Regions from separate parts of the Homo sapiens genome. Here region 2 is linked to region 1. The links come from fine-mapping of genetic effects on gene expression. Tissue or cell type: pancreas. Region 1 holds a variant in brackets; the other region holds the start of a gene. All regions are shown on one strand. Distances are from middle to middle.

Region 1 (2,915 bases):
CCTTCAATAGGGCAAATGGGATAGTCACCATATGCTCTGCCCTTGTTGGTAGAGGGTGAGGAAGGGACACCTTACTCCTTTTTTCTAAATACCACTGTCTCTGGGTACGGTGGCTGACACCTGTAATCTCAGCACTTTGGGAGGCCGAGGTGGGCAGATCACTTGAGGCCAGGAGTTCCAGACCAGCCTGGCCAACATGGTGAAACCCCATCTCTACTAAAAATACAAAAAAATTAGCCAGGCATGGTGGTGGTTGCCTGTAATCCCAGCTACTCGGGAGGCTGAGGCAGGAGAATTGCTTGAACCCGGGAGGCGGAGGTTGCAGAGAACCAAGATTGCATCACTAAACTCCAGCCTGGGCCACAGAGCGAGACCCTGTCTAAATAAATAAATAAAATGCCACTGAAATTCAATTTTAAATCTTTTGGACAAGGGAAGGGGAGGGATTAGGAAGAGGCAAGAGAGGGGCTCCTGAGGTGCTAGTAATGTTATAATTCTTATATGTTCACTTTGATATTTTATTGATCTTTATACTTATGTTTTATGTACTTTTCGACATGTATCTTGTATTCCATTAAAATGTTTTAAACAATTCTAGAAATTTAGAAATTTCTGTCTTTAAACATTTCTCAAAGGGACCTATGAAAGATGTTAATGGTGAGGTTCTTTTCCAGTGCCCTTATTTTGCATGGTCTACCATGGGTTGAGGAGCCCTAGCCTAGTGGTGTGCAGATTCTAAGTGGAGTGGGAGAACAGTGAAGGACAAGATTGGCGTGGGCAAGAGTAGTTTGGGAAAACAAAATATTTATTCATTCAGTAAACGTTAACTGGGCACAAGCCATGTACTGAATACTGTGCTGATATAGAAAACTTTGGCCAGGCATAGTGGCTCATGCCTATAATCCCAGCACTTTGGGAGGCCGAGCCGGGCAGATCACCTGAGGTCAGGAGTTGGAGACCAGCCTGACCAACATGGTGAAACCCCATTTCTACTAAAAATACAAAAATTAGCTGGGCATGGCATGGTGGCATGCACCTGTAATCCCAGCTACTCAGGAGGCGGAGGCAGGAGAATCACTTGAACCCGGGAGGCGGAGGTTGCAGTGGGCTGACATCGAGATTGCGCCATTGCTCTCCAGCCTGGGCGACAAGAGTGAAACTCTGTCAAAAAAAAAAAAAAAAGAAAAAAAAGAAAAGAGTTTGAGACCAGCCTAGCCAACATGTTTGGCAAAACCCCATCTCTACTAAAAATACAAAAATTAGCCGGGTGTGGTCGTGGGCACCTGTAATCCCAGCTACTTGGGAGGCTGAGTCAGGAGAATTGCTTGAACCC[A/G]CGAGGCGGAGGTTGCAGTGAGCTGAGATTGTGCCAGTGCACTCTAGCCAGGGCAATAGAGCGAGACTCCTTCTCAAAAAGAAAAAAAAAAAAAGAAAAAACTTGAAGGAGACTAAAGGTCAGGGTTGGAGGGGAAAATAAAATGTGGATGCTGTCAATTAATTCTGGTTGTAGCTATCTACTAGTCTTTATAGAATAATATAAATAACCAATGCTTACTTAGCATTTGCTGTTTACTAATATATTTACATGTATTAACTCATTTTATCTTCACAGTAACACTATGAAGTAGGCACTACTACCAATATCTCATTGTATAGATGAGGAAACTGAGGTACAGATTTCCTAAAGTCACTCAGCCAGGAAGTAGTGGAGCTAATATTCAACCCAAATGTCAGGGTCCCTTTTTGTCTGCTCAAAATCACTATGCTTTGTGAAATTAATGCAAAGACTATCAAAGGAAATGCAGGTTGATCTGGAGGCACTATTTGAAGATAGTCAGTGATCTTGCTTCCAGTACTCTGTTGTTTATGTGTTTTGGAGCTCTGTGTGAATGCCTTTTCTCCTTTTTACAGACATGGCTGGATTCCGCCAAAGAAATAAAAAAGCAGGTTCGTGGTAAGTGGATATAGCTCTTTTTATAGTTCTTTCTTTCTTTTAGTAGGTCAGAGGATTTCCAACCATTTCTGGCTGTGAGTCAGTCACTTTAGAATCCTGACTACTGCAGATTGCTTTGAAATCGAGATAAAGCCTTCTCCTGGAAGGAGGAGATTCCATAATAGAAAAATATAGCAGAGGTGGATACTATTGAGATGTAGGTCAGATTTTGTTGATTTTTTTTTTTTTACAACTGGGCAAAGTTGGGGAAGATAGGAAGAGTTGAGAGTAACAGAAGGTGGAAAAGAACAAAGATGAGAAAAGAAAAAGGATATGGGAGTCAGTTCTCAAAATGGTAGTGACTTGAAACCGCAGTTGCCTACTAGGAGTTTGCTGCCGTATCCTATTCCTTTGAAATTGTTCTGAACTATTGCATTATAAATTTTATGTTTTCCTCTTTATGGTTGTTTTCATCCCTTTTAACAGTCCTCTTCCAAACTGCAGTATAAAGGACTGTGGAAGAAAAAAAGAATGGAAAGACAAGAATTGCTTGCCACTGACCCTTCTGACATTGTGGCTTTGCTCCTAGCTCTAACTCTAATGTATAGTCCCGCTTTACACCCTGATCAGACTGGTGTCCTGGGATAAATATTTCTGGGCTGAAAAAAGTACAGATTAGTATTTTGCAGTTCCAGGCCCAATGGCTAATTAAGACTACCTGTCCTTTTAGTTTAGTTTTGAAGAAACTTCCAGGAAATGCAATAGTTGTTATTTATCATGATTAGTAAGTTTTAACACTCACCTGAAAACAAACTTTACTTTTCATTTGTTTCTTAGAAGAAAACACTTTTGTTATGGTGAAATGTTTTTCTTTAGACCCTATTTGTAATTGTTTAGTTTTCTTAACGGAAGAAACAAAATACTCTTTTGGACTGATAACTCTCTGTATTTGCTTTCTACCTATAAAAGCTCGTTTTAAAATGCA
Region 2 (2,915 bases), 220 kb after region 1:
CAGGTGCCCACCACCAAGCCCGGCTAATTTTTTTGTATTTTTAGTAGAGATGGGGTTTCGCCACGTTGGCCAGGCTGGTCTAGAACTCGTGACCTCAGGTGATCCACCCGCCTCAGTCTCCCTAATGCTGGGATTACAGGCGTGAGCCACCGTGCCCAGCTCTAGCCTGAATTTTAACCATTAAAGTAATACCACATTTGCCCATCCTTTGGAAAATAATCAAACTATTTGCTGGGAATCAAAGAGTTAAAAAGAAGGTACTGCACAAGAGTATGCAGGTGTTTTTTGGTGGAGAGCACTACATAGATCTTAGGTGATTACCACTATGAACTTTGTCTGTACTGTCTCCATTTTTTAAGATGATGAAACCGAGGCTCAGAGAACCTCAGTAACTTGCCAAATGCAAAGCTAGGACAAGGATTTGACCCCAAGTATTTTGATTCCCAGACCTGTGCTTTTGCTTTAGCTCCACTTCAGTGGCCCCAATAGCCCTTCTGAATGGCTATTTATGTGCAGATTTACAATGGTTGGCAACTGACATACTATTTTTATCAACCACGTGCAAAAAGCATGAATTAAGATCCAACAGAATTTTAGGAGGAGGACAAAGTCATAAAAGTAACGAGAAGTTGAATGACTTCTCTAAGACCAAACAGCTACTAAGACGTTGAGCCTGTATTTGACCAAATATAGATACTTGGGTCTGTATGGCACCAAAGCAGCTCTTTTTAACCAAGCCAAGATGCATATACGGTGCAGTGGAGAGAAACATGAGTTTGGAATCAGAAGCCATGGATTCCAGTCTCCTGTTCCAATCACTTATTAGCGGTATCACTCTGGGCAAGTCCCTTGCCCTCTGGAAACAATGATCTATGACCTACTCTTTACTGACACATGAAGATCCAAATGGATGTAAAAGTATTCTGAAAACTTCTTCCAAATAATAATAATAATAGTAAGAACTCACGCAGGTCAGTCAGACATAGGTTGGAATTCTGACCCTGTCACTTACTGGCTGTGTGACCTTGGACGAGTGATTTTACCTCTTCTGCCTCAGTTTTCATCTGCAAAATGGGGATAAATCAATAACTACCCCAAAACATTGTTGTGACAATTAAATGAGAGCATCCATTTAAACAAGGGATTGCCTGACACAATATTCGATCAATAAACATCAGCCATTAATACCCTGATAATTGCCTCTCGGGTCTTCAGCTACCTTCAAGTACGGTCTTTCTGACCTACCAAAAACGCCCTGGGCTTCGGCTTCGGTTTGCTATTCTCTGCCCCCTTCCTCGGACCCTGTCCCTCTCTTCCCAGTCCGCAGCTCGTGTTAAAGCCTTCCAGAAACCCCAGTCCCCTTCCCCGGCTTCGGCGCCGTCTCTTACTCGACGACCTTGGCTGGATCCCCGTGGTGCCCATAGACAAGCGCCCGGACCCGGGCAGGCTCGGCGGATGCGGAGTAGGAGGAGGCGGCAGGTCCGTGACAGCCAGAAGCTGGGAGCAGCCCCCGCCACTGCCGGGCGGGGGTTCGCACCCGCCACAGGGTACTGCAGACCCACATGCTCGCTCCAACCAACACAGAGCCTGACGCCCCGGCTACGTCATCTTCCAGCGACCGCGCGCCTGCGCCCCGCCCCTGCCCCGCCGGGTGACCACTCCCCCTTGGTCCCTTTGAAGGGCGTTTCCTTCCTTCGCTGCCCAAGTGGTGGCGCCTGGCTAGACTGCGTGTGGGCCCCGGAGGGATCCGGGGGTGCGGAGCTTGCGAGGCCGCCAAAGCTGTTGTCTCAACAAGGAGAGTCTGGGGCTAGTCCAAAGTCGTGTCTACAGCCTGCAGTTTGGTGTTTGATTTGGAGGAAATATTTACTCTCCCTGGCCTCAGTTTACCCTTCACATAATATATTGAGTGCTCACCGAGCCAGGCTCTTTAAGGTATTATCTCATTTAATCACCACTACCATGTAACGGCATAGGGAGGCAAAGCTTACTTCCCTACACTGAGGAGAGTACACGAAAGCTGCTGTGGAGGCAGGAGTATGGGGCTTGGAGTTAGAAAACTTAGGTTCAAATCCTAGCCCTGCCACTTCCTAGCTTGGCCACCTTGGGCAGGTGAAACTCTGAATTTTTCTCATCGGTACAATGGGGATAATATGCCTCCTTCCGGATTGTTGTGAGGATTGGATGAAATAATAGAGGAATGCTATTGTGGGTGGGAGAACGCATTGTAAAAAACTCTGTTCAGATGTAAGACAGGAATCACAAGGAGAAGGGTCCTCTCTCAAAATGCTCACAGTGTAGAAAGGGATTAAGTGGAACACTGGAAATGCCTGTAAAAAGGTGTAGCCCTATGAAGGATCTAGTCTGATTTTTGGTGTAGGGAAGACATGAACATTACTAAAACCCCAGATCGAGCTGTGGCTCGTGCCAGAGTGCAATGCTGTAGTCTGAAGAGAAGTGCTCTGGGATGGGGTGGGATGGGGTGGGGGCTCTTGGAGGAGGTGCTGTTAGAGCCAGCCCTGTGATTCAAAATCTTCTGTGTGCATAAAAATAATCCGAGGTCCCATCTTAGACCTACTGAATTAGAATCTTGCGGATGGGGGTTCCAGGAATCTACATCCTTACAAGCTCCCAAGAATATTCTGATGCAGGTGTCCCAGGAAACAGGTTTTAAGATACTGAGCCAGGGCTTTGAAGGATAAGGAAGAGTTCCTTTCCTGGATTTTATTGACTTGAAGCTTGCCATCTCCAAGCCTTTCCTCTGAGGAAGAGAGCACAGCAAAGTACTGTGAGCTAGATTTGGACAAACCTGGCTTTATGTCCTAGCTCTGCCATTTTCCAGCCATTTGATTTCGGACAAGTCACCAGGCCTCTCTGTGTCTTCACTTTCTTACTCTTAAAATGGAAGGAATACTAGT

Alleles and levels. Positions count from the first base shown, and alleles are read on the strand shown. Sizes are in standard deviations (SD) of each study's normalised expression.
For the expression in pancreas of the gene that starts at base 1,592 in region 2, allele A in region 1 goes with a higher level than allele G (moderate effect, 0.47 SD a copy in GTEx).

What was found. PIP is the estimated chance that this variant, and not a neighbour inherited with it, causes the effect.
Region 2: it holds the start of MECR, and the variant in region 1 is the best candidate, but not a certain one, in a credible set for the expression of MECR in pancreas (GTEx, PIP 0.57).

The regions. Positions count from the first base shown.
Region 1 is chr1:29,009,957-29,012,871 of GRCh38, forward strand. EPB41 (erythrocyte membrane protein band 4.1) reads left to right here. Exons shown (of 21, transcript NM_001376013.1): 5 at 1,909-1,951. Among named protein-coding and RNA genes, the nearest start is that of EPB41, 97 kb to the left of the region's middle. The variant A/G (reference allele first, on the strand shown) is at 1,334.
Region 2 is chr1:29,229,343-29,232,257 of GRCh38, forward strand. It overlaps MECR (mitochondrial trans-2-enoyl-CoA reductase), which reads right to left and starts at 1,592. Exons shown (of 10, transcript NM_016011.5): 1 at 1,389-1,592. The coding sequence starts at 1,564. RefSeq lists enhancers at 968-1,468, 1,469-1,969, 1,494-1,603.